5 separate regions of the Homo sapiens genome follow, and all the other regions are reported to be linked to region 1. The links are microRNA targets in miRTarBase. Many come from high-throughput screens and were not tested one by one. Region 1 holds a microRNA gene; each other region holds the end of a gene's coding sequence.

Region 1 (6,174 bases):
CACCATCCTCGGGCTGTTCTGCGCGGGCCAGGGCGTCTTCTGGGCTTCCATGGCTGTGGCAGCCGTGTCCCGGCCCCCGGTTCCGGTGCAGCCTCTGGATGCGGAGGTCCCAAATCGTGGCCCCTTCGACCTGCGCTCCGCGCTCTGGCGCTACGGTCTGGCCGTCGGCTGCGGCGCCATCGGTAAGACGTGGGCTGGCTTCCCACTGTGACAACGTGGGGTGGCGGGACACGACCTTCCCTATACAGGCAGGGAGAGTCAGGGACTCCCTATCCGAGAGTGGCGGGCGGGCTTTACCCCACAGAAATGTGAAACACTGGCCGGGCGCGGCGGCTCAAATGCTGGGAGGCCGGAGGCGGGCGGATCACTAGGTCAGGACATCCAGACCATCCTGGCTAACACCGTCAAACCCTGTGTCTACTAAAAATACAAAAAATTAGCTGGGCGTGGTAGCAAGCGCCTGTAGTCCCAGCTACTCGGGAGGCTGAGGCAGGAGAATCAATTGAACCTGGGAGGCGGAGGTTGCAGTGAGCCGAGATGACGCCACTGCACTCCAGCCTAAGCGACCGAGCGAGACTCCCCTCTCAAAAAAAAAAATTGGGAAACAGTGATGTCTCCGAGCGCCGTGCCCTGTCATAGCCTAGGCTGAGGGCTGCCCTTCACTCTGCGACCTTGAGCAAGGTCCTTAAAGCTCTCCATCTTCCCATTAAAATGGAAACGGACATCTATTAAGGTTGTTGGGAGGAATAACAAGATTACTGGGTATAACAGGAGCTCAGTACTGCACTCCAGCCTGGCCGGCAGAGTGAGACTCAGTCTCAAAAAAAAAAGCGCTCAGTAAATACTACTTTCATCCCACAAATTTCTTATTCAGAGGGCACTGGAAAGGTCGGTACTTAGATGCCCAGTGAAAACCCCTCACCCCAATCTCTGCCCTGCCTGCAGGAGCCCTCGTACTCGGTGCTGGTCTTCTCTTCTCTCTCCGGTCTGTGCGCTCAGTGGTGCTTCGAGCTGGAGGGCAGCAGGTGACCCTCACCACTCATGCCCCCTTTGGCTTGGGGGCCCATTTCACAGTTCCTTTGAAGCAGGTATCTTGCATGGCCCACCGGGGTGAAGTCCCTGCCATGCTACCTCTGAAAGTCAAAGGCCGACGCTTCTATTTCCTCTTGGACAAAACTGGACACTTCCCTAACACAAAACTCTTTGACAATACTGTGGGTGCCTACCGGAGCTTGTGAAGAAATGACCTCAAGTCACTCACCTCTCCAAGAGGAGGATAAAAACTGAACCTTGGGGAGCCAGGTGTGTTGGTTCACACCTGTTGTAATCCCAGCACTTTGGGAGGGTGAGGCAGGAGCACTGCTCGAGCCCAGGCTGGGCAACATAGCGAGACCTTGTCTCTATTTACAAAAAAAAAAACAAAAAAAAACGCCAATCTTAGAATGGAGTAACAACCAGGGTCACACAAGGAGGTCAAGATTCATTAACAACAAATAAAGGAGCAGTCATCCCTAGGGCAGCTGCCTAACAGTACCTCTAAGTTTCAGTCCATGTCTGCTTAGCCTTCACTCCTTCCTCCTATCTAGTTGTACTTTAACATCAAAAACTCACTACTAAGATGAAGACAGTAATATAATATTTTGGTACAAAAACAGCTGCAGGAAGAGGTGGAGGGGGGCCTGTCATTATGTTTCCCCCCCACCCCCCAACGAAAGGAAAACTAAGACTCCCAACATAAACAGGGCCTTGAGGGGGGGGATTACAGGCACTTGGGCATGGAGTCTTCGGCTGCAGGAAGCACTCCGCTTATTCTTCAGGAATGGGAAAGGCGTGACCCAACGAGAGCATCTGTCTCAGAGCTCCACTCAGGGTCACCCCTCTCCAGAGGCCGGTATGGGGTGGCTTCAGACTTCCACTGCACGACCTGGAGCACCAAGACCACACACCACAATACCAAATTCACCCAAGAAGAGGTCTGTAGGAGACAGGGACAGGATCGTCAGGAGTGGGACCATTTCAAATCCAGTCCTTCCCACCCACACACCACTCTGAACTGCTGAATTTTAAGCTGACAACCCCTTCAGCTCCTCTCACTGGTAGGCCAAGCTCACAATACACTGGTGAGCACCCACACAGCTACAGATATTTATGTCAGTTTTTCCTCCTATCCTTGGGTCTCACTTCAGCATTGTGTAGGTTGGAGTAAAACTGCAGAGCAGTTCCAGGGGGTGTCCATGGAATTTTCTGGGCTTCAGAACAGCTGTGAGGTCAAAGAGACAGTTGTGAGAAAGCGTGATAGTTTATATCCGAGGCACACCTGTGCCCAGTGCCCTGTGAGTTGAGAGCAACTGATGGGGATAAAAGGAAATTATAGGACCCCGCTGCAGAGGGAAGGTAGTCAGCCCCAGCCAGGCTTCCCTCCCTCTCCCATTACCTAATTGTAGTGTTCAAGGAGATGATGGAGTTGCAGAGAGACCTGGTGCCAAATCGAAGGATACAGGCAGACACCAAGACCAGGAAGACGGCTATAGCTGAGATGGCCAGTGCAATGCGCAGCCCTATAGCACCTCTGAAAGGGAGAGAACAAGCCTTGTGGTGGAGGTGAGGCTCATCCTACCTCAGCCCCTGGCCCTCAGGGTTAGGCAGTCACCTGTGGGAGTCCTCGATGCAGCTGCTGTAGATCCAGAAGAGCAAAAGCAGGAGGCAGTAGAGGGCCAAGAGGCCAGAGGCCCCAGCTACAAAGTAGCACAGGGATGGTGCTGAGGGACGGGATAAGGCCAGGGAGGAGCCATTCAGGGTGGCCACACCATACAGGGGACATCTACCACTGAAGGAGCCCTGTGGAGAGAAGCTGCTGAGTCCTAGATTTCAGGTTAATGTCTCTAGATACAGTCTCTTGGTAGGGTGTTAGTGATAACTTAGGAATGGTCCTGCATTCCAGGAAGTTATTTGTGCACCGTCAATTCCTATTTCTGGGACAGGGATATTGATGGAGAGGGCCTGCTGGGGAATCACACCGGCAGTGGCCAGAAGGATCAGAAAATAGGCAATGAATATAGAATGCAATGAGCTTCAGAGAAGCCTCACAAGTTATGGTCTCTGTGCAGAAACCTTAGAGTAAACCCAGGCCTTGTATATCCTTCAACAAATAACTATCTGTGAGGTGCTTTTTTTTTTTTTTTTTGCTGGAGTGCAGTGGCGCCATCTCGGCTCACTGCACGCTCTGCCTTCTGGGTTCATGCCATTCTCCTGCCTCAGCCTCCTGAGTAGCTGGGACTACAGGCACCCGCCACCATGCCTGGCTAATTGTTTGTATTTTTAGTAGAGACAGGGTTTCACCGTGTTGGCCAGGATGGTCTTGATCTCCTGACCTCGTGATCCGCCTGCCACGGCCTCCCAAAGTGCTGGGATTACAGGCGTGAGCCACCAGGCCCGGCCAGTGTTTTTGTTTTTGTTTTTGCGATGGAGATTCGCTCGTCACCCAGGCTGGAGTGCAATGGCACGATCTCGACTCACTGCAACCTCCGCCTCCCAGGTTCAAGCGATTCTCCTGCCTCAGCCTCCGAAGTAGCTGGGATTACAGGCATGAGCCACCACACCCGGCTAATTTTTGTATTTTTAGTAGAGACAGAGTTTTGCCATGTTGGCCAGGCTGGTCTCGAACTCCTGACCTCAAGTGATCCGCCTGCCTCAGCCTCCCAAAGTGCTGGGATTACAGGCGTGAGTCACCGCGCCCGGCGGATCTCTGAGGTTTTCTCATGGTGTAAAATAGGCACACTAGTGCCTACTTTATAGGCATTAAATGAACCCATGTTTATTAACCAGATTACCTGGCTGGGGTAAACGATGTAAATTATTGGCTTCTACCTTTACGTCAGCGTTTTCTCCATCTCTCATTTTGTCATTTAACACACTGTGCTACAATCATGTGGCAGCTTGATCATCTCCACTACACTATGCTTTATTTCTCGACAAAGCTCAGCACAAATGGCTTCTGATTTAACGGATGGACGCAGGTTCTGCACTGACTTCTGTTTCGGAACCACAGTAAGGCTGTGCAGCAGGAGCCACGAAACCCGACTCCACCTAGTGCTTTAAGACGCTACTGACCCGTCCCTTTGGCGAGGGGACAACTTCGAAGTATGACCTGGCCAGGAGGAGCCACAAAGCGCGATTAGCCTCGCTGCATTTCAGGTACAGGCCGGCGCCAGCCGTGCCTCACCAGGTCCACCGGCTCCGAGCAGCAGCAAGCCCGGTCGGAAAGCGAAAGTGGCCTCGCCATGTCCAGACCGGCCAGCTCCCCCGCCTACCTGACCCCGCCCCGCAGCCGCACCTGGGTCCGAGTCATCGCCGCGGCCGCCACGGCCCCGCACAGGAAGGCGGCAGCAAAGAGCGCAAGCTCGACGCGCTGCAGCCAGGACAGCGCCATGGCGCCCTGACCACCAGGAAGCGCCGCTGCAGCAGCACCCCGCCCAAAGCCCACCTTATCCGGCGCGACCCACGAAGGTGGAGACGTCATTTCCGGGGGCGGGATTTATTTACAAGGAACGAAGGGGCCACTGACTCAGAGCGGCAAGTACAGCGAGTAGTCCGAGAGCGCCCACCGGCGGGCGGGGCGGCTGGTACGGCCGATCATGGGCAGTTTCTGCACGTAGCGCGAGGCCGGGCTAGGCCCGTACGGCGCGGGGAAGGCAGTCTGGAAAAGGCGCCCGCGGCAGCGCCTCCCAGCCTGCCGCCCGGCTATGATGAAACGAAAGTGCGGGGCGCCGCGCGGGGCGAAACGGCTCTTCTGGAAAACGTCGCGGGTGCCGGTCCCGGGGCCCTGCTGCCGGGGTGCCCCGCGCGCCCGATGCACGCGCGGCAAGGGCCTGCTCTCAGAGGCGGCGGGCCCAGAGGCCGACGCGGGGCCGCCTCCGCCGCTGCCCCGGGGGCTCTCGTCGCCGTGCGGGCTGACTATGGCGCTTGCCGTCAGCTGCGGCATCTTCCGCACCGAGTCCGGGGCTGCCGCCGGCTCCTTCTTGTCCCCGGGCGGCCGCGGAGCCGTGGGTGCAGGCTGGCCGGTGCCAAAGCGTGTGGCCAAGCTGTCACCGAAGAAGGCGTAGAGCTCCCGGTAGATGTCGGCCAGGGTCACCGAAAGAGAAGGGTCCTCCGGCCCCGCGCCCCCTGGCGGCAGCGGGAGGCCGGACCCAAAGCTGGGTTCTGCACCGCCCCCGGAGGACGACTCTTGAAAGAGAAGGCTGTCCCATGGCAGGTCGTCCAGGCGCCGGCACCCCCTGCCACCTGGGCCACCCCTGTTGGGCTCTGCTGCCTGGGCCTTCATCTTCAGCAGTCGCTCTACCGCCACCTGTAAGAGCCAAGGACTAAGATAGGCAAAAAATTCGAGGAACCTGGGCCCATCAAATATTCCAAAGTAAGCCTGCTTGGCTGCTAAGCTCATGCAGGGAAGGGAGGCTGGAAGGGGACGGTACTCACCAGAATGGCTCCATAGACTTTGTGTCCATCTGCTTTGACCTGGGCATTAGATACTGAATAATCATCCAGCACAGCCTGCAAGTTTGTCCAGTAGGTGGACAGGTGTGGGTACAGGACTCGTTCTACTGCCTGGAAGGAAGAGAAGGAATACAGTTAGCATGTCTTTGATACTTATTCCCTCTCAAGGACCCTTTCCCATGAAAGACCTACCTTTATCTCTGATCCTAGACAGGGCTCAATCCTCCTAAATTCCCTGATTGGCATATTCAACCATATATTTATTTGGAACCTACTGTATACCTAAGCTAGGCATTGGGAATAAAGATAAGGTACAAAGGGAGACAATAAAAAATATACCCAATATCACTGCCCTGTGTGCTAAATAATGCTCATTACTGACAACTCCAAAATTTAGTTTGCATACTGCTACCCTATACAATCAGGCAAGTACTGGCTTCACTTAGATGTAAACTGAGACTCAGTTCAAACAATCTGCATAAAAACAACCAACCAGAGACTTGGACTCTGATTATACAATTTAAAATCCTGTGATTGGACAGGCGCTGTGGCTCACGCCTGTAATCCCAGCACTTTGGGAGGCCGAGGCCAGTGGATCACCTGAGGTCAGGAGTTCAAGACCAGCTTGGCCAAGATGGTGAAACCCCATCTCTACTAAAAATACAAAAATTAGCTGGGCGCAGT
Region 2 (6,174 bases), not on the chromosome of region 1:
TTTCAGTTGGACACGAATTTTGTTGGGGGGACACTACTCAATCTAGTACAATCAGCTATTAATGTAGCTGATGCAGGATTTTTTGCTCCTTAGTTCAGTTAAATTTGGGTTATCACATGACCAGAAAAAATTAGGCACGCGTACACACTGAAAGGCGAGGAGGGCAGAATTTATTAGGCAAAAGGAAAGCTCTCCACAAAAAGAGGGGTCCTTCATGCAGGTTTTACACCTCACAAATTGAATGCCAGGCCACCACACACGAGCTGAAGAGGCACGGCTTCTCCCCTGCATAAGGAGCAAACTCCTCGTGGCTCCACCCCATGTGTGGGCGCTTAGTCTGAGCCACATTGATTTATTTCCCTTACTGCACATGTGTTGAGAAATGGAATCTTTCACAGTGGGCATGTTCATTCAGGCAAGCCACGTGTGCACAATGACCTAGGCAAGTCAGAGGCTCTCCAGGAACCCTTCTCTATTTGCCTAGGCTTGTGCCTGTCACCTTTCTCTTTCATAGCTAGCTGTTTTATAGATTGGTCTAATATATCTTTTACCAGTACTACAAGAAAGTGGCTTACATGATTATGGAGGCTAAGAGGTCCCATGATCTGTCATCTATAAGCTGGAGACCCAGGAAGGCCTGTGGTATAATTCAGTCTGAATCCAAAGGCTTGAGAACCAGGGAAGCCAGTGATGTAAATCCATCTGAGGACAGAAGATGAGATGTCACAGCTCAAACAATGAGGCAGGAAAAAAAAGGGGGGGGAATTCTTCCTTCCTCTGCCTTTTATTTTATTTACGCCCTCAACAAACTGGATGATGTCCACCCACCTTGGGGATGGCTATCTCCTTTACTGAGTCCCCCAGTTCAAATGCAAATCTTGTCTGTAAACACACTCAAGACACTTCAGAATAATGTTTAAACAGATATTTGGCACCCTGTGGCCTATTCAAGTTGACATATAAAATTAACCATCACAAGTTTACCCTTGTCAACTTGGCACCCATAAACATCTCTTTAAACCATACTTAACTGCCACATAAAGACAACAACAAGGTCATAATTCCATCTAACACGATTAACAATCCAGCATTCCACCAGAAACACTCTAACCCGTTTCCCAGAAGAGGTGGTAAAGTCTTCATGTGATGTTTACTCTCTCCTTGATATCCCATAACTTAAATACTATGATGTAAAATTAATCAAGGTTGAACACTGGAGCCAGTTAAAAAAATTAACAATATTTAAACACTATGCTATAAAATCAATGCATCTTATGTTACAGAATAAGGAAATGAGAAGAAAACAAAGCTACACACACACAAAATGTAGTTATAGCAAAATATGGAGGACATACTTATGACAATCACAGTCTGTGTTTCTGTAACTGGTCATATGATCAAAGCTAGTATTTATTCCACCATTTATTCTGTATTCCCTTTGCCTTCAGCAAGCACTTCATCTGGTCATGGTACTTACCTGGTGGTGACCCAAACCTTCATTCCTGAAAGGTCTGGATCATTAGTGGTCCTGTCTGAATTAGGCTGTAGTTTTCCATTGACCTTAATCACAGGGCATGATAACACTAAGAGATGCCCTAAGGAATCCTGTGTATTCCCAACATACTTTACCTTACCACCATTCGGGGTAGTCCAGTTTCTACTTGGTAGTCAGGAACAATCACCCAGCCAGCACTGTAACTCATTTGTCTATTGAGTTAGAGGCATAAGAAGCCCCAAATGGCTGAGGAGCAGTCTTAAACTTCCAGTTCAATTAAATCATGATTGCGTCTCTCAGTGGAAAATATTCCACCCTATGTAAGACCTCTAGGCCAGCAGTGCATAAGTCATGGGAACAGGAAGCAAAAATTTTGCTAGTGGGTCACCAGGGCTAATAGCGAATGGTGTCCTTCCTATTCTGACCCCTTGATTCCTGGACCTGTGAATCCCAGTCATAAGAGAAATGCACCATATACTGGATGTTGATTCAGAGCATAGACAGTCTTCTAGAGAACCTTGTCCCAGCCCTACAAGGCACTGCTATATAGCTGGTGTTATTACTGTCTTCAAAATGCCATTCCACTGCTCTATGTAGCCAGTTGATTCAAGATAGTAGGGAACATGGTAAGAAAATTCCATGATCATGGGCCCACTGCCACACTTTTGCTGTGAACTGAGTTTCTTGTAATGCTGTGTGGAATACCATGGTCATAGATGAGACATTCTGTAAGTCCACGGATGGTAGTTTTAGCAGACACCCTGCGCGAAGGGAAAGTGAATCTGTATCCAGAGTAAGATCTATTTCAGTAAGGATAAAACACTATCCCTTCAATGATAGAGGTGGATCAATGTAATGAACCTGCCACTAGGCAACTGACTGATGACCCTGGGGAATGGTGTCATATCAGGGGCTCAGTGTTGGTCTCTGTTGCTGGCAGACTGGGCACTCAGAGATAGCCTTGGCCAGGTCAGCCTTGGTGAGTAGAAGTCCACGTTGCTGAGCCCATGCATAACCTCTATTCTTGTCACCATGGCTACTTTGCTCATGAAACAATTGGGTGATGACAGGTGTGGCTGGAGAAAGAGGCCTACTAGTATCCACAGAACAGGTTATCTTGTCCACTTTATTAAAATCCTTTTTTGCTAACCCTTTGGTGAGCATTCACATGGGGCACAAATATCTTCACCCTTTTTGCCCATTCAGTGTCTATCCACATACTTCATCTCCAAATTTCTTTGTCACCAATTTTCCAGTTATATTGAACTCCCTGACCATCCAGCCAAACCACTGGCCACGGCCTATGAATTGGCATATAATTGAATATCTGGCTATTTTTCCTTCTAAGCAAAGTCAACAGGGGGACTGCTCAAAGTTGTGTCCACCAGGAGGATTTCCCTTCACCACTGTCCTTCAAGGTAGCCCAGAGGTGAGATGTAGTGCTGCAGCTATCCACTTTAGGGTGGTACCTGCATATCATACAGAACACTCTGTAAACCAGGCCTAAGTCTTCTCTTTCTCTGTCAGCTGATCACAGGGAAGTCCCCATGAAGCCACCGATGCAGGCTGGAAGAGAGAAGGCAGGTAGCAGAAGTGGGGACTACGGAAATTTGGCCTACTTCTTCATGTAACTTCCTTGTGCCTTCAGGGCCTCTCAGGCCCAATCATGTGTATACCACTTCCATCTGATGACAGAGTGTTGCTGTGCATATCCAACTTTGTGCGTTGGTGGCTCAGATAACATCCAGTTCATGATGGGAAGCTCAGGTTGCACGGTAACTTGGTGACTCATTAAGTATCAGTCTCTACTAAGGCCCAGTAGCAGGCCAAGAGCTGTTTCTCAAAAAGAGACTAGTTATTTGTTGGTAATGGCACGGCTTTGCTCTAAAATCCTAAACCAAGATTCACCTATAGGGACCTGCCAGAAGCTTCAAACAGCATCCCTATCTGCCACTGCCACTGAAACACCACTGGATCTGCTGGATCATATGACCCAAGTGGCAGAGCAGCTTGCACAGCAGCCTGGACCTGTTGCAGACTCTTTTCTTGTTCTGGGCCCTACTCAAAACTAGCAGCTTTTTGAGTCAATTGGTAAACAGGCTGGTATAACATAATGAAATTGGAAAATGTTGCCTCCAAAACCCAAAGAGGCCCACTAAGTATTGTGCCTCTTTCTTGGTTTTAAGAGCAGCAAGATGCAAGTACTTATCCTTCACCGTAGAAGAAATATCCTAACATGCCCCATGTCACTGGATCCCTACCAATTTCACTAAGGTAGAAGGCCCTTGAATTGTAGTCATATTTATTTCCTACCCTCTGATGCAAATGTCTTTCCACTAAGTCTAATGTAGTTCCTACTTCTTGCTCACTAGGTCAAATCAGCATAATGTCATCGATATAACCAATCAGTGTAATATTTTGTGGAAGGGAAAGGTAATCAAGATCCCCATGAACTGAATTATGACATAGAGTTGGAGAGCTGATACACACCGGAGATACGACAATGAAGGTGTGTTGCTGGCCCTGCCATCTGAAAGCAAACTGCCTTTATGGACTGGTATGAAAAAAAAGACATTTGCCAGATCAATTCCATTGCCTTACCACATAATGCTGAAATAAATATTTCATACATAATTTTTATATTTAAAATGCAAACTATAAATATAATACACATATTTACTTGTACTTGTGCAAATAATTCTATAGGCCTGACTGAAAGGGAATGTTCCACCTTTCTACCTTTTTTTAATGACAAATTTCTGATAAAATTCCTTGTTACCTAATGAATGACTTCAGTTTCAAAATATGCTAAATGCATTCAGTTTCCAGTAGTTCTGGGCACACACTGTATGCTAAGACTTGGTGAACTTGAGGACTGAAAGAGTTTCTTGGCCTGCTTGTCTGGAAAGTGCAGTGGTTCCTTGCAGACCTTTTGTCTTCATTATTTTCAAAATTTCTTCTAAAATAAAAATCAAAAGGTAAAATCCATTAAGCCATTTGGTAGTGTGCATGATCAATAAGCAATTTAATAAGTTAAACACAGATGATTTATAAATTGTATTCATCTGACAAAACAATGTATATCAAATAAATGTCTACTAAAGTGAACTTGGTCTTCAGCTAAATGGGAGCACTTGGTATTTTCAAAGTGTTGCTGGTGAGTCTAATCAGAATAAATGGCTTGCTTTGCAGTCACAGCCTACTTTTGACTCAGCAGAAACATTAATTGTCATTGTTATTATAGCAAGTGATCAGTTTTTTAGTTGATTGGCTCCAATCTCTGCCCTATGTCTTTCTCTTTGGATGACAAAAGCCAATGAAGGTGTGGACAAACTGAATAGTGACATTGCACAGTGAGAGTGAAAGAAGTAGCTTATTTCTTTCAGGCATATTGAAAAAAGAAAACCTTCCTTATAAATAAATAAAACTAAGAAGACTGAACTAAGACAATGGAGGGAGGGAGGGAGGGAGGGAGGAAGGAAGGAAGGAAGGAAGGAAGGAAGGAGGGAGGGAGGGAGGGAGGGAGGGAAGGAGGGAGGGAAGGGAAGGGAAGGGAGGGAAAGGAAAGGACGCATGGATGGACAGAAGGAAGAAAAAAAGAGAAGAGAAGAGAGAGAGAGAAAGAAAGAGAAAGAAAGAAAGAAAGAGAGGGAGGGAGGAAGGAAGGGAGGGAAGGGAGAGAAAGGAAGGGAAGGAAGGAAAGGAAGGGAAGGGAAGGGAAGAGAAGGGAAGGAAGGAAGGAAGGAAGGAAGGAAGGAAGGAAGGAAGAGAGAGAGAAAGAGAGAAAGAAAGAAAAAGAAAGAAGGAAGGAAGGAAAGAAAAAAAAGAAAGAAGAGAAGGGAAGGGAAGAAAGAAGGAAGGAAGGGAAGAAAAAAAAGAAGGAAGGAAAGAAAGAGAGAGAGAAGGAAGGACAGATGGACAGAAGGAAGGAAAAAAAGAAGAGAAGAGAAAGAGAAAGAAAAAGAGACAAAGATGGACAGAAGGAAAAAAGAAAAGAGAAGAGAAGAGAGAGAGATAAAGAAAAAGAAAAGGAAAGGAAAGAAGAAAGGAAGAAAGAAAGATGGAGAGAAGGAAGGAAAAAAAGAGAAAAGAGAGAAATAGGAAGGAAGGAAGGGAGAAAGACAAGAGAAAACTAGCAATCATGTGATTTGAAGGGCTGAGGACTTTTAGTATAAGCTGAAAATCAAACTTGAAGTGTACAGAAAAAGAGAGGAAAGATTATGGTCAATTTAGTTATAAAGCAATCTGAAAACAAAGATATAAAAATCTATACAATTAAATAGCTTTCATGATAAAACTCCTAACGAACTAAAGAGTACAGCACAATTGTCAAGGGCATGAAGACTAGAGGGTAGAGAGAAAATTCATAATACTGAGAGTGAGGTGTTAGAAAAAAACATTAGAGATTTTTATACTTGAATATTAGGTTATAAACGGGGAAAAGAGAAGATAATACTTTTTAAAATCAGAAAAATTTACCTCTGAAAACCTCTTTTCTCTTTCAACATAAATTTATGCCTGTATTAGCTACTGTCAGTGATTAACTGTTTTAAGTGATTCATTAACATGCCAGGTTATCTTATAAATTAAAGCATTTTACATTATTAACTTTTGATTTCAGCAACATAAATGCTTAAACAATAAATTGGTCTGTATTACCTGGGTTGTTTTCTTTAATG
Region 3 (6,174 bases), not on the chromosome of region 1:
GCGTTGCGGGGCTCCGGGCGGGGTCGACCCGGGGGGCTCCGTCGGGCCCCACCAGCCTTGCGCCTTTTTCGCTCGGTCTCCTTGGCCTCCCGCTCCTGCGACGCCGCTTTCCTTTTCTCTTGCTCCCGAGCTCGGACCTCGGCCAGGGGCCCCGCCCGCCAGTTGGTCGCCTCCTGCAGCACCCTGGAGGCCCAGGGCCGGCGGGGCGGCGGCTGTGGGGATCCCGGGCGCGGCCCACACCTGGGACAATGAGCAGGAACCCAGGTGAGCAGTTTGTGGGGGAAGGGAGCCGAGGTCCGGGGAGCTGGGAGCACTGGAGACCACTTGGGGCAGCCATGTGAAGGGGTGTGTGTGAGTGTGTGCGCGTGTGCACGTGCGTATATGTTAGGACTGAAGTCGAAGCGGGACTCCTCGCCATCTCTCCATGCACACTTTAACAGCGTCTGCCCCATCTCACCTCCTGCCCTTTCTCACACCCACTTCTGTTCCCCCAAACAACGGGATGAGTCAGGCCCCAGCCCTCGGGAGCGGGCAGAGGTGGAAGGCGTGGGAAAGAGAAGGGGGACCAGCAGTGCTCGCTGGTGCCTGCGGGGAGGTCCGGACCCCACTCCCCGCCCCACCACTCTCTTCCCCTCACCCCTGCTTCACTCACGTGCGGTTCTGGAACCCGCGAGCCCAGTGGCTGGCCTGGAAGTCCATGGGCTGTCGAGAAGGGGCGCGGCGACTATAATGACAGGAAATAGTCTTCACTTCTATCACCAATAGCTTGGACTTCTGCACCCAGAGGCAGCTGCCAGACTCCTCATCCTGGAGCTCCCGGGGGCTGTCAGGCCCCTCGGAGAACAGTGGGCCATCCAGCATCCTGCCCCACCCCACCCCGGCCCCCCACCCTCCCACCCGCCCCAGGAGCCCCCTCCCAGCCCAGGGAGCCGGCGCCCACTGCAGAGCCGCGGGCCCGGGGACTGGGAACTATATATACCCGGGCACACGTGTGTGTGCCTGTCTCTGTGTGTGCGCGCGCATGTGACACCGCGCGGACTGCTCCGCGCTGCTACCTCCCCCATGTGCACGGCCGCCCCCTGGGGCCCGGGATTGGACGCCCCTTCCCACTGCTGTTGTCCCCCAAGCCTGATGGGATCGCACGAGTGGGCGGGGGAGGGACTTATGATTCTTGCCAAGCTGACAGTGCCCCCTCCCCCGCCCCTATTTCTTCAACCTTCCTGCCGTTTTAACCCTTTACTCTCCTGCTTGTCAGGTTGCCTGACCACCAGGGTTCTGCCCCTGGCTTCCTGCCTCAGATTTCAGTTTCCCCAACATAGAGTGATGAGATTGGAACTCAAGGTCTCTGCCTGCCACTCTGCTGGTTTCCATGGGGCTGGGGTGCAGGAGGGGCTGGCCCACGGCTGGGGGGCTATTTTTAGCGGCAGTGGCTGTTCGGGTGCAGAGATGAGATGAGTAACCAGCTCCCATGCGGTGGAGAGAGGAGGCGGTGGCTTTTACCAAGCTTTTGTGCGACTCTGAGGGAGAGCTGCCTTCCCTAAGCTCAAAAAGGGTGACCCCTACACCCGTATCTCCTTGTCAGCTCAGTGCTGCAGCCTAGGACTGCTGGTACAGCAGGACACAGGCGTCTGCCTTGGCCACCCAAGCTGCCCTACCAGTTCCATTCTACATGTTTGTCCTTGGGCAGCCAGGGAGCCCTCCCACAGCAGCAGGCTTTCACCTCCAATCCAGAAGCCAGGATTTGGGGGTTATATTGTTCTGTGCCCACACAGCCTGCCCAGCTTTATGGAGGACAGAGTAAGTGCTTATGCACTCTCACCCTTCCAGAGGGGGATGGAGGAGAAATGATGTGTTTGCTTGGCAAAACTAATCCCCTAGCAACTGAAATGATAAAAGTGGCCTTTATTTTTTTCAATGTAGAACTCCCCCTCACCACCACCACAATGCCTAGTTCACTCAGTCCCCACCTTAAGTGGTGCTCCAGATGCTCACCTTTTGGGCTGCCTCTGTCCTGGGGGGCTGTTGCTTATATCCACATGATCCCTCCTCCTAAGCTTATACCAGGTGTCCCCTGATTCACCATGGTAATGTTAGTGGCAGCACAGCCCACGCCAACCCTTCCATGCAGAGACTTAGCAACCATGCCTGGCAACCATGGCAGCAGCTTCAGTGGAGGGGAGCAGTGCAGAGAGAGGGGAGAGTGTGTGGGGCATGGTTCCTCGGGAAGAAGGGATAATTTGCCTCTCTGGAGAGGAATAGGTAAGAATAGAAGCTTGTGAGTCTCCCAAATTTCATCCCTTGTCTCTCCCTCAGCTTCATCCTCACACTGAGACGGATAGGTTGGGTTTTAGAGGGAAATGGGAGAAGCAAGAGTTCCCAATTAGTTTTCCACTAATGTACATGGAGCCCTTTGGGTCCAGACCCTTCCTTTTAAGGGGATGGGGAACAACCAGAAAGGTTGTGGGGCAGAGACTGACAGACTGAGAAACAACTCAACAAAACCAGGTCTCTGCTCCCTAACACAAACCTTTAGAGAGAACGCAAACATCCCGTCCCATCCACCCTACCCCCCTTGATTCCACACACCTGCCAGCTGCACTGATGACTTGACTCGAAGATGCTTCCTTCCACCCTAGGTCCCACTAGAGTCCTGAGGCTTTTTAAAGCCCTTGCCTCCTCCCTAGGCAAATCTTCCTTAATGAGGGAATGTGACATAAGGGGCCATCTGTCCTTTCCACCATGTGCTTACCCTCCTGACACATAAACATACTCTAATTCTAATAACTTGGAAGCCTTCCTCCCCCAAGGTTGAGAATGTGCTGTGAGAGCTGTAAAGGGGTGAAGGCAGAAGCAGGGGCTCCTCCACAGCCATGATGCAACACTGAAAGCTGAGCTCTGATGAGGGCCACCTTCTTTTTTTAAAATAAGCTTCCTCAGGTCGAATCTGATGAGGGCCTTGATGCTTTTCCCTGTGTTCCATCAGGAGAACCCAGTATGCCCTGGCTGGAGGGTTATCAGAGGGGTTAGGCACTGTGGGGCAGGGGCAAGGAATGACTCCGAAATTGCTCCTGGCTTGGATGGGAAACTGTATCATACCTGCAAGGCTGGGGTGAGCTGGCACCCAAATTTAGCTCATACTCCAGTCTAGCAGTTCTTCTGATGTTGGGTGCTGACTGCTGTTTGGGTCTACATGCTTTCAATACAGGGAATGGATCTGATGGAGTGACCACTGCCCTGCTGTTCTCCCACCATCCAGCTCATTCTCACCTTGGAAGAGGCAAGGGATTTGTAGGTTTAAAGATAGTGCTGGCCGGGTGCGGTGGCTCATGCCTGTAATCCCAGCACTTTGGGAGGCTGAGGCAGGTAGATCACAAGGTCAGGAGTTCGAGACCAGCCTGGCCAATATGGGTGAAACTCCGTCTTTACTAAAAAATACAAAAATTAGCTGGGCGTGGTGGCGCGCGCCTGTAGTCCCAGCTACTCAGGAGGCTGAGGCAGGAGAATCACTTGAACCCGGGAGACGGAGGTTGCAGTGAGCTGAGATTGCGCCATTGCACTCCAACCTGGGCAACAGAGTGAGATTCCATCTCAAAAAAAAAAAAAAAAAAAAAAAAAAAGATAGTGCCAACTCAGCAAAAGCCAAACAGTCCAACCTTCCCCAACTAAGAAAAGCTGATAATGGTGGCAGGATTCTCTGCCCAAAGGAGACCCTCAAGTCTGTCTACTCGTGTGTGTGTACGTGTGTGTGTGCGTACACACGTTATTATTATTGTTAATGACCAGTTGAAGAAGCCATATAAAGTAGGAAGGTAGTACCCATCAACTGTAAAAATCAAACACTGCAATATCGTGAAGAGATTCCTGTCATTTAATTAGATTTGCCACAAAAAGCAATAACCTTAGCTAACCACGCTGCTCTCCTCCTCCACCTAACCCCCATCTCCCTTCATATGCACAAACACAGGAACCCAAAGCCCCTCCTCCCCACAATCCTCCCCACTCACATTATGGGAAGAAATGTCACTAAATGGACTTGGCCTCCTCCATATAGCACGGAACAGGTGAATAAAAATATCTTTATGAAGAATTTTGTTGTGCTATTATCTTAGGGTTGAATCAGGGCCAAGATGGAGGCAGAGGCAAGTGAGGTCTGGGGATCTCTTAGAGATCAGAATTTGTCTGAGAGGCACAGAGCCTATAGTTCACCCAGAAAGGGGGATATATCTAAGAGGACAGGGGCTAGAACTGGCTAGGCTGAAAGTTTTTTCAAGTGTATGTGTGAGGGTAAGGGTAGCTATAAATCCATTCTCTTTCCTCCCCCATACCTTCCCTAGCTCCCAGATAGAAGGGCAGGGGACCCTGAACAGGGAACAGAGTCACAATTCCCTCAAGTTTCATCTGATTCCCACAGAGCTTCCAGCAGGCAGTGAGTTGGGCATATCCCCTGGTGCTGCATGACCCCTTCCCCCAGCTCAGGGCTTCTTCTCTCCACCTGTGAGCACCAGGGCCTGCAGGATGTCAGACAGTGATACAATTCCCTTGACCACATCATTTTCATCCACCACTACAAGTCGGTGAACCTGGCACAGAGCAACAAGGGAGAAAGGGAATGTTTAGTGCTGGCCTCAGGGGAAGCCCCTCTGCCCCTACTCTCCTTGCCAAACCCCACTCTCAAGGCTGCTCCCCTCAGCTCCTTTAGGGTTGCTGGCCTCCCTACCTCTGCTTCCACTAGCCTGTTGATGATGGTCTCCAGAGTCTCATGCAGGTAGCACTTGAGAACACCCTCAAAGTAATGTGATCGATGTTGCAAGGCTTTAGTCACAGATACATCTAGGTTGTTGTAGGTCTTTTCTGCTGCCAGATTCTGGGGAGACAGAGGAAGGAGCTTGCAGGGAAGCAAGAGAGCCAGCCTCCAAACCCTGAACCCATCCAACCTCAACAGAGGGATTCAGGGCAATTGTCAGCCACAAGCCACACCCAACTCATTCAATTCCTTTTCAAATAGGATTTGAAAGCCTGGAAGCTTCTAAGACCCTTAGATCACAGAAGAGACTCCCTTCTCCCTCTCCATATTTAACAGTGCCCCCCCCCCACCACTTCCCTACCTCCCAGACCCTCCACAATCACTCACGATAACATCAAACTTGGAGTAGATGTCCACCACACGCCCTAGGGGGACAGAGGCAGCTCAGTAAGGAGGATCTGGGATCTAAAGCTCCCCCTACTCATAGAATCACCCTCCTGGCTAAGCTGAGGGGAAAGCAGATCTTCCCAGAGCCACCCTGACTTGCCTGGATCTTCCCTCCCTCTCCTTCTGCCCAATCTCTCACCCTTCTCATCCACCACTGGCAGGGCTGAGACTCGATGCTGTACAAAAATCCCCAGAGCCACATAGACGGGGGTGGTAGTGCGAACCATAGCAATATTGGCATAGGTGCCAATCTGTAGCTCTTCCAGAGACTTGGACATGAACTCTGGCTTGGGGAACTCAGTGATCTGAGGAAAGAACCATCAGCTTAACTTTCAAGGCACCCAAAGCCACCCTTGGATACCCCCTCCAACCCAGTATATTAGAAATAAGGGCTGGGTGCGCCGGCTTATGCCTATAATCCCAGCACTTTGGGAGGCTGAGGGGGACATATTGCTTGAGCCCAGGAGTTCGAGACCAGCCTGGGCAACATGGCAAAACCCTATCTCTATAAAAAATACCAAAAAATTAGCCAGGTGTGGTGGTACACACGTGTAGTCCCAGCTCTTCTGGGGGTTGAGGTCGGGGGTCACCTGAGACCAAGAGGTTGGAGGCTGCAGTGAGCCATGATAGCGCCTCTGCACGCCAGCCTGGGCAACAGAGTAAGAACTTGTCTCAAAATAAATTAATAAATAAATAAGAAGTGGGGCTGGATGCAGTGGCTCACACCTGTAATCCTAGCACTTTGGGAGGCTGAGGCGGGAGGATCACTTGAGCTCAGGAGTTTGACACTAGCCTGAGCAACACAGTGAGACCTCGTCTCTCTTTTCAATCAATCAATCAATCAATCAATGAAAAAAGAGAAAAAAGAACTGGGCTGAGGAGCACTTACAAACAATTTGAGGAACTTCAGAATGCGCTTGTGGGTGAGGATGTACAAAGTATTGCCTGATTCTGGGTCAATAACTGGCAGCCTGTGGATCTTG
Region 4 (6,174 bases), not on the chromosome of region 1:
TGCAATCAGAGACCTTGAGCTTATCTGGCTGTCTGCTGCCAGCATATTGAACGCAAGGTCAGAGAGACAGAAGATGTCTTCACTAAGCAGTTAATATAATGACTTTAACACAGAAAGTTTCCAGTTACACAGTCAAGAGTGAGTTAGGCACTTTAAGCTACCCAGGACCTCAAATCAGAGCTCTTTCAAACTTGCTTTTGGGGGATAAATCAAGGTTAAGAAAAGTAATTAGGGGAAGACCTCTCATAAAGACCATGGCAGAGGCTCCCCATAACCTGGGCTTCCCCTACCCCCATCACAACCATCAAAGCATAATGTCCAACGTTGTATAAACGTTCACAAAAATGCAGAGATGATGTGTACTAGCTATCTAATACATTGCTGTGTAACAAATGACCCCAAAAATGTAGCAGCCTAAAGCAGTAAACATTTATTATCCACATTTCTATGGGTCAAGAATCCAGGAACAGCTTAGCTGAGTGGTTCTGGCTTGGGTCTCACGGGATTACAGTCAATGTGAGCTGGGTGCAGTCACTTGCAGCTGAGGCTCACCTCCGCGCTCACTTACGTGGCTGTCGGCAGGCCTCAGCTCCTTGCTGTCTGCTGGCCAGAAACATCCGTGTGTGGCCAGTGGGCCTCTCATGGGCTGTGTATCCTCACAACATGGCAGCCGGCTTGCCCAGGAAGAATGGTCCAAGAGAAAGCCCAAGACAGAAACCTAGTCTATTTTTTAATTGCTTCAACAATTTATTCATTCAAGAGATGGAACAAATAAATCCATTTCAGAGAAAATGGACTGAGGGTCAAAACTGGGTACAGGTCAAGGAAAAGGCAGATGTAGCTTACACTACTTTCCTATGTGTATAAAAGAAACTGATCTTTTATAACCTATTCTCAGAGGTGACATACCAACCCTTCATCTATACTCCACTGGCCACAACCAGTGGTATAACACAGGAGACTACACACAAGCCATATGAATACCAGGAGCGATCACTGTCTTGGAGGCTGGCTACTGACGGTCCTGATTATCTGGCTTAATTCCTGAGTTATATATAGGACTGAGTGTGAGTCTTTACCACACACATTCTCAGAGTTCTCAGAGCCTGGGCCTCACTCATTTCTTCTCATTTCCCTTTTAGGTCCCACGATGAAACTGAAACGGCTCACAGTTTTGGAGAAGTACAAAGGTATCATTGACTCCTTTTACCAAGAGCAAAAAATGTAATCAGGGCCTATGCCTGCAGTTTCTATAGAATAGAGGGCAGGCGTTCCGAGCCTCTTCCTGAGCCCCAGGTCTCTTCAGTCTGGGCACAGGCATTTCTGCCAAGTCTGTTAGATCTCCAGGTCAGGGCACAGCACTGGCTCTACATTTACCAGGTCTTACGCCAACAATAGCTGACAATTCCAAGAAGCTTCACGTGTGGGTAGTTTTAATTCAGTTTAAGTATTGCTTTTTGTTCAGGTGACAAATGAGATCAGCTCTCCTTCCAGAACGAAAGGGCTGATAATTTTTGGCCTTAGTTCCAGGTAGATTAAAAAGCTGCTAGCTCACATACAGGACAGCCAGCAGTAGGCTGTGGAGCGGGTAGGAGAGAGATGGCTGATACTGCTCACGTGCGCTGCAGGAAAAGCAATCAGTCACAACTCACCTAGCGACCTGACTTACTCTGGAATCTTGGCGGGCATCGCCGACCCTATTATTCCATTACCAGGCACTCCGCCACCCACATGCCAACTGACTTGATGCTTAATAAAACTGCTGCTGCCTGTTTGATTCTATTTAATGTATAATTTGAATATTAAACCTTTTAACAGAACTGTCAACAAGGACCTGATTTTTTTTGTCAATTGAGCAGGTGGGACCAGTGCAGAGAGTAGTGGGCATTTAACTCACAGGACTGTGCACAGCGGGCATGCGAGTGACCATTAGTGCCCTGGAATAAACAAAGGTGCAGGATGGGGTCAAGTGGCGCATTCTCATAAAAGCAGCCAGCTCTACGTTAGCCTGTCGCCACCAGACCACCCCACTTCCATTCTGAATACGGGAAGCAGCCATTCTCAGTAGCAAGCTGAGCCAAAATGACCGAAGGCATCTGAACAGGAAACAGGTAGAGAAAGCAAACATCTCAGTTTTGGAATTCTTTATTACTTTGAACCCAAGAGCCACTGATAACTGGCACAATCCAATGAAACAGAGGAAGCAGCAGCTTAAACAAAGGAAAATACATTTAAGATTATAAGTCTGGGGGGGCGGTTACAAGCTTAAAAAGTGACCCAGACAGGGATATCATTGCTAAAAAAAAAAAAATCCCCTTGTGACCTGGGTACATTTTGCAAAGCCACAGGTTTGCAATGTTACACAAGGGCCAAAGGAGGCCATGAGTTGTCTTTGGTTGTGGGGACAGAGGGTAACTGTTCATGAAAATAGTGAGTGTCTGAAGATTAAGAAAATCATGCTGCAGCAGAGGAGAAGGGAGAGGAAGACAGGAAGGGAAAGGAGATGCCTGAGGGTCAAAAGCTGAGCCCAAGCCTAAGCCCAAGCTCAAGCTCAAGCCCCAGCATGGCATAATTTTGTGAATTAACTCAGGCTGAGTTGCCTCCAGTCTTTGGAATGTCATCTTATACTGGTACTGCTGAGGCAGAGGGCAGTAATTGGTGCTTTGGGATAGGAGAAGGGGCAGTTGCTGAAATACAAAATTAATAGCATCCCAAGTTCCTCAATTGCAGCCAAAATACATGTGTTCGGGCCTTTCGGCAGTATCGCCCCCAGAACTACCTGCTGTAGTGTGGTCCATTCCCAGACAGCAACATGCAAGAATAAGTTTACAATACACTCAGCCCTTCTGGCTTCAGATCAGGGGCTCAGAGGCTGTGACAACTCATGATGCTGAAAATGTATCCAGTGAAAATGAAGTACTAGCTCTCTGCTTCATTAAAAGCTCTTGGAAAGAATATTAAATCTCAAGACAACAAAATAATTGAACACACAATACATTTGTGTCTTTGTATCCAATATATTACCTTTGTCTTATTAACAAAAATTATATCTCTCATTATATATTTCTTGGATCTGAAGTTTTTATTCACACTCAGTAATTTCTGTAAAGGACAAATCTGTCTCTATTTTCCATATCATTTAGAAATATACCACATTCACTCTTTTTGATGTGAACTTTCCCAGGAAAATTCTCTTGTGCCCATTTAGTTTTAGAAGAGTGTCATTTTGTGCTATTATGTCAATATCCTGTTTTATTTCCATTATGTTTTTCAAAAACCGAAGAAAATAAGGTTTTTCTTAAAAAGTTAGACATTTTCTCTTGTTAATTCTGTATCCTGTTATTTACAGCTGAAGAGAAACTATTTTAACTTAAGTGTAAAATGGTTTAGAATAGCAAATGATACAGTCCACTCAGAGTTTACAAAAAAAACATTTACCAGGTAGACACTTAATAAATAAAACAAGCACTTGGAAAAAGTTCTTTGAAAACAGACCTAGGGACATCCACCTGCATCTTTTGCACAGATTTTGTTAAGAAAAGGCCAGATCTAAAAATGTACTGTCAAGAAACAAGCAAACCAATGCATACATACGTAGGTATTCTAAACAGAGGTTCATGTGGTGTCCATTTAGAGTGACTGATGTAAATGCCAGTTGTAGAAGTGTTAATCTAAATCTTTTACTCGGCGACAGATTTCCTCTGTGAAGTCTGAGCATTTTGCATTGCCTCCCAAATCTTTTGTCAAGCTCTGAGAAAAGGAAAAAGCAAAAATAAAAGATGTATCCGCAAACTAAACTAAACCAAGGAGATTTTAAAGCCCTCAGTGAGATGCCACCTGGGCAAGTTACTCGGCTGCTCTTTCATTTAGTTCCTCATTTCAAAGTGAGGAACCACTCCACCACCATCTACCCAGCCCAGGAGGATCGGGATCCAATCTCATAGTGTATACAACAGCACTCTGCAAAGAATAAGGTGCTCTTGATGCAAAGGGAGGCAGGGAGCTTTACCAAAATTTTCCCTTTGTTCACACAATAGACCCTAACCCAGATTAGTTGGTCATGGATATTTAAATAAAAGCGAATCTAAATAAGAAGTTTCATAAAAATCCTTGGGAAATATGTCTCAGGAATAGACCTGAGACATATTTTGATCTATTTTTGTTTTTATTATTATTTTTTTTTTAGATGGAGTCTCACTCTGTTGCCCAGGCTGGAGTGCAGTGGCACGATCCCAGCTCACCACAACCTCTGCCTCCTGGGTTCAAGCGATTCTCCTGCCTCAGCGTCCTGAATAGCTGGAATTACAAGTGCATGCCACCATACCCAACTAATTTTTGTATCTGATCTATTTTTGGAGGCTGGGACACAAATACGAAAGAAATATTTAAATCATTAACTCTTTTTTTTTTTTTTAAGAGACGGGGTCTCACTATGTGGCCCAGGCTGGTCTTGAACTCAGAGGCTAAGGTGATCCTCCTGCCTCAGCCTATAGCTGCAACTACAGGCATGCACCACCACACCTGCCTAAATCATTAACTCTTAAACCTCCCTCTTTAGGAAAGAAAGCCTCCCATACAACTGATCTGTTCTACCAGCTTATCCTTTCTTTCCTGCATACAGACCCCAATATATTTAATTCTCTTTATCTTTCCATCCTACACAATAAAAGGGCCCACTATGTAATTCAGGCACCTCTCTACTGGGCTGTAGATTATAACTTCCCAAATATAACTTTAAAGAATAAGAAAATCATATGACCTCCAATGTGACTATCAGGCTGTTAAAAACAAGCCTGAATTTCTTGTATTTTGGCCACACGATATAATTTCAAATTACAGAATTTTTTTAAAAGAAGGGACCAACTTTGAAGATATTACGCTAAGTGAAATAAGCCAGACTCAAAGGACAAATACTGTATGATTCCACTTACATGAGGTACCTAGAGTAGTCAAATTCATAGAGACAGGAAGCAGAATGGCAGGTGTCAGAGGATGGGAGGGGGAAGGGAAAGTTACTGTTTAACGGGTGCAGAGTCTCAGTTTGAGAAAATGAAACTGGTCTGGAGATGACTGATGGTGATGGTTACATTACAATGTGAATGTACTTAACATTATTGAACTGTATACCTAAATACGGCTAAAATGGCAAATTTTATGTTATGCATATTTTTCACAATTTTTGTTAAAAAGGACCTCAAATTAGGGATGAGTCTTCAAGTGCATTATTTCCTCTAACTTCGGAATAGCCCGCGACACTTCTTCCACAGGCCACAATTGCTTACCGAGGCGGTGGAGCTTGTTGGGTAAGGCCCAGACTGCGTGTTAATACCAACTTGGGTCATTTAGGAGCTGTAAAACCTTGGACATATTATTTATTCTCTCTGTACCTCAGTTTCCTCATCTATAAAATGGAATTATAGCATCTACTTCAAAGAGTTATAGAAAAACTTTGCTGAGATGATATATAAAGAACTTAAAAGTTGCATAAGTATTCAATTAATATTAGTTATTACTTTTATAAAACTTCTGTATTGCTTTTGTATTATAGATGCACACAGTGTAACATATAAGACTATTGTATTAGAGGTACATCTGCATCTGTATCTGCCACTAGATTCCCAGCTCCTTGAGGCTCAGCATCTTACCCTATTCATCATTTTACTCTTCACACCTTATAAGGTACACTCAACAGACGTTTGTTGTGAAGAGTAAAAAGTTGTCTATAAAAATCAATGAACTTGGCCGGGTGTGGTGGCTCATGCCTGTAATCCCAGCACTTTGGGAGGCTGGGGCGGGAGGATCACTTGAGCTCAGGAGTTCGAGACCAACCTGGCCAGCATGGTGAAACCCCATCTCTACTAAAAATACAAAAATTAGCTGGGTGTGGTGGCACACGCCTGTAATCCCAGCTACTAGGGAGGCTGAGGCAGGAGAACTGCTTGAACCCGGGAGGTGCAGGTTGCAGTGAGCCAAGATTATGACACTGCACCCCAGCCTGGGTGACAGAGCAAGACTCTGTCTCAAAAAAAATCAATGAACTTGGCCAAGGTCACACAGCTAACAATAGGATAATTGGGCGTGCACCTGATGCTGCCTCCCAAACCACTGACCTTTCCACTGTACACTGATGTCTATACATCAGTGCTGCTTAACTTTTTTTGGATGAAATATCTA
Region 5 (6,174 bases), not on the chromosome of region 1:
CTACAGGCAGGAACCACTGCACCTGGTTGAATTGACTTTATAGAAGTCTGCAATAGTGACTTATTTAAACTATTGGGTGTGCAATAGTTAGGAATTAGTGTAAGTGATGTCTATGGATTAGTCATTTTCCAGACCTTTTTTGTTTTGTTTTTTGTTTTTGTTTTTGGCTTTTCTGGGGGAGGAGCAAGAGTGATAAGAAGTAGAGAGTGTTAGTAGCTTCCTAAGTAACTTCATCTTTTATCCTTTTCTTGCACAAGAGTATTTCATATTCTAAAACATCTTGCTTAATGTCTCCCTAGTTACCTTTCTGAAAGAGTATTAGGGAATTTTTGTTAGAGCATCAGGAAGTTGAGATGCTTTTTTTCAAATCGATTATTTGTTTATTTAAAGAGTTGGGGTCTCACTCTGTCATCTAGGCTGGAGTGCAGTGGCTGGTCATAGCTCACTGCATCCCCAAATTTCTGGGCTCAAGCAATACTCTTGCCTCAGCTTCCTGAGCAGCTGGGGCTACTGGCTTGTGCCACTACACTGGGCTTATTTTCTGTCTTTAAATTGTTTCTAATTTGGGCCAACTATCTTTTTTCTTCTTTGATGATGTTTTGACTCAATTCTTATTTATTACCAACCTTTTAGTTATGATTTCTCATTTTCAGAAATAGAGAACTGTATTTTTTCTAGTATCTTCATCTCCGGTTAAACGAGACAATTTTGTAACTTTATATACCTCATTCTACTTTACAAACTATGAACAAAGCAGATTGGGGGGTGTATTAATTTAGGTCAGAATAATAAAAATAACAGATACAGCTTAATGGTTTCTGATTATATTCTGGTAAGTCCCTGAAGGTATTTATTACAGTTGTCACTTGAGGCAATAAAAATGTGGGAAAGTTTAGTACCTTAATCAGTGTGACAATTATTACTCACATCTACTTTGTCTGGATCCAGAATTTTTTCAGAAATATCATTACTTGTGTAGTTTTTGGGTTAGGATACAATTTTATTATATTCATGCTTATATTATTACAGTAGGTTTGTAACTCTTGAGGGATAATTTATTTATTTTGCTGTTAACATTTTAGTTACAGAAGAATGGTCTGAGAAAAAATGGTATTTTGAAAAATGGCTTGATCTGTGACTTCAAGTTTGGACCGTGGAAGAACAGCACTTTCAAACCCACAACTGAGAATGATGACACAGAGACAAGTAGCAGTGATACATCAGATGACGACGATGTGTGAAGGATTTCCTAACAGCTTTAGAAATCTTAGTGTGATACATCTCTCATACAGTTTGGGGTGAATTGTAAAAATGAAGAACTATAATTTATGTAGTGAAATACCCCATTAGAAGAGGATTTTTTGGGGGACTTCAATATGAAGAAAACCAAGAATGTTTTGTTGGGCTGTGTTGAACATTATTTCTTTGTAAATGAATGTTGTAGGAATGAGGACTTGGGTTGGTCCAACATTGACTTTCTTCATCACTGCAACATTTCTCTGACTAGCAATGTGACGATGTAACAAATGAGATTTTCTCATTTAATAATAAAAAATTGTGTAATGTTTTGCAAAGCTTCTGTCTTAAAATGTCCAGGTCTTAAGAAAAAAGGCAGCTTACACTGTTTTGCTTGCAGAGTCATATCTTTTTCGTACAATGGAAATCCTCAAGTCCACTTTGTGCGGTCTCCCTCTCCTTCCCCCAAAAAACAACAACAACAAAACAAAAACCAAAAAGGAAAATGTAGCATGTTGGCTAAAACTGGAGCAAAGTGCACTAAAACAATTTCCTGAACTCACCTGTTGTACTATTCACCTTTTAAACCATAAATTGCTCTTTAGCCATTTGTAGTGCAGTAAATGTTACAGGAAAAGACTTGGCACATTTTCTTCCAAATTTTAAGAGGTGATTTTCAAAAGCTTTATTGGGGTATGTTGTCAGACCAGGGTTTTCAGAGTTGATGGAAAAGAGTCTTGTGAGAAAACTTATTTTGATAAATTATTACACACGCAGAAAAACTGATCACACTGACTGGATCTGTCCACGACATGGAAAATAAACTGGATTTTCAGAATATTGTTGTTTTCTGTAGTGTTCAAGGTATTGTTTCTAAACATAAACATACTCTAAACATGCTTTATTCACTTGTTAAAGTCATACTTTTAAAAGTAATACCTTACTAAAGATGGTGATTACTTTTCCGAGGTCAGAAAAGGAAAGCTAAGCGTTTTCATTATCAAATACACAAGCTTATTAAATGAATGACTGTTAACTACTTTATTTTCATTTGCACATTAATTTTGGAATTGTTTCTGTTTTGCTGCTGACGGAAATACTATTTTGGCTCTGTGTATATTTGTATTTTGATTTTTCTGGTTTGTTTACCCCCATTTGCTTTTAGCTCCCCCTTATGTTTAAATATATTCTAACTTATGTAAAGAGCATAATCTTAGAGCAAAAATACTTGAGGTTTTATGTCAGATCTAATCTTAAGTGTTTGTTGTTTTTTAAAAAGTGTTTTCTCAGATGGCTGCAGTGTTTTTGCTATTTCTGCATAAATACCCTACCTGGACTCCCCAGTTTTCACCAGAAACTGTTATTTTTTTTTGTTGTTGTTCCCACTGAGACTGATGGTGATGGGGAAATTAAAAACAACACACTAGCACACTCCCACAAAACTTGAGGAAGAGTTAGAATGGTAATAAAATATTAAATAGACCTTATACTTAAAATAAGGTTTCACTATATAATTTGTCACAATTCAATCTAATCAGCTAAAGTTAAATGTAGTTAGAATTAGCCACAGGAGAATGTAAAGCATGCTTTGACGAAGCTATCGGTAACACATATTGAATGTCTTTGAGACTCTTAGATTGTACTATTTGCTTAATAGATTAATGAAATTTATCAGATACAACCTGTATTTCCAAAAACAAGCTAGAAGGAACCTGAGGAATGTGGTTTACATTTGAGATCCACCTTACTGTGTTTTCTACTTTCAGAAAAGATTCTGTAGTTTTGGTTTTTGGCATCTTTCTTATACTCAGTTTTTTCTGCCTTAATTCCCATTTACCAGCAGTTAACTCATGTTTATTGTGCTTTCATGCATTGTGATATGGAATGTGTTTAGTAATTTACTCCTTATAAATATGGTAAAGTACAGTGGTATGGTTATTCTATGCATTAAGTTAATGACATTAATAAGCTTGGTTATGAGGGGTTGGAGCCATACATGTAATTTAAGAGAACAGTTAAAAGTGTAACATAGTTTTAGCTTGGTGTCTAAATAATGGGCAGCTGATAAAACAGCTTGGACCATATTGTTTTAAAGAGAGCCTACAAGCACAGAAACTAGTTATAGATCTAATGTGGAATTGCTGAACTCAGAACTAGGCCATGGAAGTCTGAAAAGCAAATATGGCTGTTTCAAACTCATTTTTTTGGCAGCTTTTTTATTTTTAACACTTTATTGAGGTATAAATTGACTTGAACACACAGGTAAAACATACAGTTTACAGTGTTTTGACCTACAACTAAGTGAACATAATCTATTATTCCCCCGAATTTCTTGGTTCCTTTTAAGTCCCTGTCACTAATTCTCCACCCCCCTCTCATTTTATTTTGGTATAAAATGTAATTAATGAGCAAAATTCTTAAGGTAATGACTTAAAATAGCATTTCAAAAACTATTTGCTTGATTTTAGTATAAGGATTAGAATATTTCTGCAGATAATTTCTATTGAAATTGTTAATCTAAAATCAGCTTGACTTAATCAGATTTATATTAACAGAATTCAGTATGTTAAAGGATCTGGTTCCCCCAAAATACTTTGTCCTTTTTTGCTAGTGTTTATGTATACTGTTAGAATGTGGTTATATAAACCTTTTAAATTTAGGAATCTGTTAAATAACTTGTTTTAACACCCCATCCGTCATCATCCCTAATCTGATACTGGAGTCTAAATACATGCTCCATAATCATGCAAACTAAGTTGAATCTAGATGATGAGGGTAGACTGGGTGCGGTAGCTCATACCTGTAATCCCAGGACTTTGGGAGGCCAAGGTCAGCAGATCACCTGAGGTCAGGAGTTAGAGACCAGCCTGGGCCAACGTGGTGAAACCCTGTCTCTACTTAAAAAAAAAAAAATACAAAAATTAGCCGGGCGTGGGGGCATACACCTGTAATTCCAGCTACTCATAGGATATTGAGGCAGGAGAATCGCTTGAACCCAGGAGTCGGAGGTTGCAGTGAGTTGAGATCGTGCCATTGTGCTCCAGCCTGGGCAACAGAGTGAGACTACGTCTCAAAATAAAAAAAAAATGATAACTAGGGTAGAAAGGATACACACTTGTGAAATATTTCTATAAAGTGAGATTTTTATTTTGGCTTACACAATAAGGGATGTGTTACTAGGGCTTTTAAATGATTATCACTAAGAGTTGGATATTTTAACTTTTAGATAGTTAAGTTTCCTGAGGTTATAAAAGTTATTTGGCTGTTAGGGGAACGACAGGACATATCAAGCAATAGAAAAATCCGTGAAAGCCTCCAGATGCCGCAGAGATGCTTCAGATTCTGGTTTTTGTTTTGCTACTTAATATTTCCTTTCTTTAGGCAGGGCTGAATGCTTGCACTTAAAACGATGGGACTCAGAGGACAGCTGTGATTGTTTTAATATTTAACTATGGGGCTGGGCATGGTGGCTCACGCCTGTAATCCCAGCACTTTGGGAGGCTGAGGCGGGAGGATCACCTGAGGTCAGGAGTTCAAGACCACCCTGGCCAACATGGTGAAACCCCATCTGACCCAGTCTGTACTAAAAATACAAAAATTAGCTGGGTGTGGTGGTGCATGCCTCTGATCCCAGCTACTTGGGAGGCTGAGACAGGAGAATTGCTTGAACCTGGGAGGCGGAGGCCATAAGCCATGATTGTACCACTGCACTCCAGCCTGGGTGACAGCGAGACTCTTGATATATATAACTGTATAACTATATATATATAACTATATAACTACATATATAACTATATAAAAACTATAAAACTATGTAAAACTATATATAAGACTATATATATATAAAACTATATATATATAGTTATGGGACACGTGGACCTGAAACATTCGTAGTTTAGGACTTGAGAATGTGTTGTAATTAAGAGGTTTTGTAATTGTGAATTTTTGTTCAGTTGTACAGTTAACTTTAAGTTCATTCTGCCTACCCATATGGATTCGTTTTGTAGAACTACTCTGGCATAGTGATTGAAGGTACAATGTATTATATCATTAGGTCTGGTTGAAGGACACTGCTGAAGCATGTTCCATGCAGCAGTGTCCTAACTTGCAATATGTAAGAGCATGTGTAGTGGTGGGGCCCAAACTTATCTACACCATTGGTATCATTGGGGAGCTTCCCCAATGTGTCCACCATCCCCCACCAACACCCCAGATTGTGGTTTAATTAGACTGGGGCGTGGCCTGGGCTTTAGAATATTTAAAAATCCTGCCCCCAAAACCCATTCTTTTTTTTTATTTTTTGAGACAGAGCCTTACTCTGTCACCCAGGTTGGAGTGTAAGTGGCGTGATCTTGGCTCAGTGCAACCTCTGTCTCCTGGGTTTGAGTGATTCTCATGTCTCAGCCTCCCAAGTAGCTGGGGTTACAGGTGCGCACCACCATGCCCGGCTAAATTTCATATTTTTAGAGATGGAATTTCGCCACGTTGGACAGGTTGGTCTCGAACTCCTGACCTCAAGTGATCCTCCTGCCTATGCCTCCCATAGTGCTGGGATTTACAGGCATGAGACACCGCGTCCAGCAACCAGTTATAATGTATTAACATACAGTATGGTGGAAGTAGTCACACCTGGGTTTGAAACTACATTTTTTTTCCCCCTTTTTATTTGTGCCTTTTTTTATTTTTTATTTTTTGAAGACAGAGTTTTGCTCTGTCACCCAGGCTAGAGTGCAGTGGCATGATGTCTCCTCAATGCAACTTCTGCTTTGTAGGTTCAAGCAATTCTCATGCTTCAGCCTTTCAAGTAGTTGGGATTATAGGAGTGACCACCATGCCCAGCTAAGTTTTGTACTTTTAGTAGAGACAGGGTTTTGCCATGTTGGCCAGGTTGGTCTCAAACTTGGCCTCACGTGATCCGCCCACCTTGGCCTCCCAAAG

What was found. The annotated mature microRNA hsa-miR-6748-3p reads UCCUGUCCCUGUCUCCUACAG and lies in region 1 at 1,976-1,996, opposite strand. An mRNA with a match to its seed (bases 2 to 7 or 8) in the 3' UTR can be bound and repressed. Matches are read on the target gene's strand: a 7mer-m8 pairs with bases 2 to 8, a 7mer-A1 pairs with bases 2 to 7 and ends in A, and an 8mer does both.
Region 2: the mRNA of HEMK2 is a reported target of hsa-miR-6748-3p. Seed matches in the 3' UTR shown: 7mer-A1 at 1,527-1,533.
Region 3: miRTarBase lists PRKAG1 as a target of hsa-miR-6748-3p. Seed matches in the 3' UTR shown: 7mer-A1 at 3,860-3,866.
Region 4: miRTarBase lists ACSBG1 as a target of hsa-miR-6748-3p. Seed matches in the 3' UTR shown: 7mer-A1 at 2,486-2,492 and 7mer-A1 at 4,963-4,969.
Region 5: miRTarBase lists GPBP1 as a target of hsa-miR-6748-3p. The part of its 3' UTR that is shown has no 7-base or 8-base seed match.

What each region holds. Positions count from the first base shown.
Region 1 is chr11:62,785,687-62,791,860 of GRCh38, reverse strand. MIR6748 (microRNA 6748) reads right to left here and starts at 2,046; the gene lies at 1,976-2,046. It overlaps TMEM179B (transmembrane protein 179B), which reads right to left and starts at 4,459. Exons shown (of 5, transcript NM_199337.3): 1 at 4,334-4,459; 2 at 2,651-2,838; 3 at 2,435-2,569; 4 at 2,182-2,260; 5 at 1,461-1,975. The coding sequence starts at 4,429. The coding sequence ends at 1,814. It overlaps TMEM223 (transmembrane protein 223), which reads left to right. Exons shown (of 2, transcript NM_001080501.3): 1 at 1-182; 2 at 946-1,890. The coding sequence ends at 1,238. It overlaps TAF6L (TATA-box binding protein associated factor 6 like), which reads right to left. Exons shown (of 11, transcript NM_006473.4): 10 at 5,473-5,601; 11 at 4,519-5,344. The coding sequence ends at 4,565. RefSeq lists enhancers at 1-455, 5,189-5,388 and a silencer at 4,829-4,938.
Region 2 is chr21:28,872,038-28,878,211 of GRCh38, forward strand. HEMK2 (HemK methyltransferase 2, ETF1 glutamine and histone H4 lysine) reads right to left here. Exons shown (of 6, transcript NM_013240.6): 5 at 6,155-6,174; 6 at 154-4,454. The coding sequence ends at 4,348. Among named protein-coding and RNA genes, the nearest start is that of HEMK2, 10 kb to the right of the region's middle.
Region 3 is chr12:48,998,427-49,004,600 of GRCh38, forward strand. PRKAG1 (protein kinase AMP-activated non-catalytic subunit gamma 1) reads right to left here. Exons shown (of 12, transcript NM_002733.5): 8 at 6,081-6,174; 9 at 5,331-5,496; 10 at 5,132-5,169; 11 at 4,718-4,864; 12 at 3,848-4,580. The coding sequence ends at 4,473. It overlaps DDN-AS1 (DDN and PRKAG1 antisense RNA 1), which reads left to right. Exons shown (of 2, transcript NR_147179.1): 1 at 1-264. DDN (dendrin) reads right to left here and starts at 949. Exons shown (of 2, transcript NM_015086.2): 1 at 653-949; 2 at 1-240. The coding sequence starts at 861. RefSeq lists silencers at 1-230, 880-1,174 and an enhancer at 1,320-1,614.
Region 4 is chr15:78,166,498-78,172,671 of GRCh38, reverse strand. It overlaps ACSBG1 (acyl-CoA synthetase bubblegum family member 1), which reads left to right. Exons shown (of 14, transcript NM_015162.5): 14 at 1,143-5,204. The coding sequence ends at 1,228. IDH3A (isocitrate dehydrogenase (NAD(+)) 3 catalytic subunit alpha) reads right to left here. Exons shown (of 11, transcript NM_005530.3): 11 at 727-3,750. The coding sequence ends at 3,667. Among named protein-coding and RNA genes, the nearest start is that of IDH3A, 20 kb to the right of the region's middle. RefSeq lists an enhancer at 4,841-5,140.
Region 5 is chr5:57,261,512-57,267,685 of GRCh38, forward strand. It overlaps GPBP1 (GC-rich promoter binding protein 1), which reads left to right. Exons shown (of 12, transcript NM_022913.4): 12 at 1,083-3,162. The coding sequence ends at 1,241. Among named protein-coding and RNA genes, the nearest start is that of GPBP1, 91 kb to the left of the region's middle.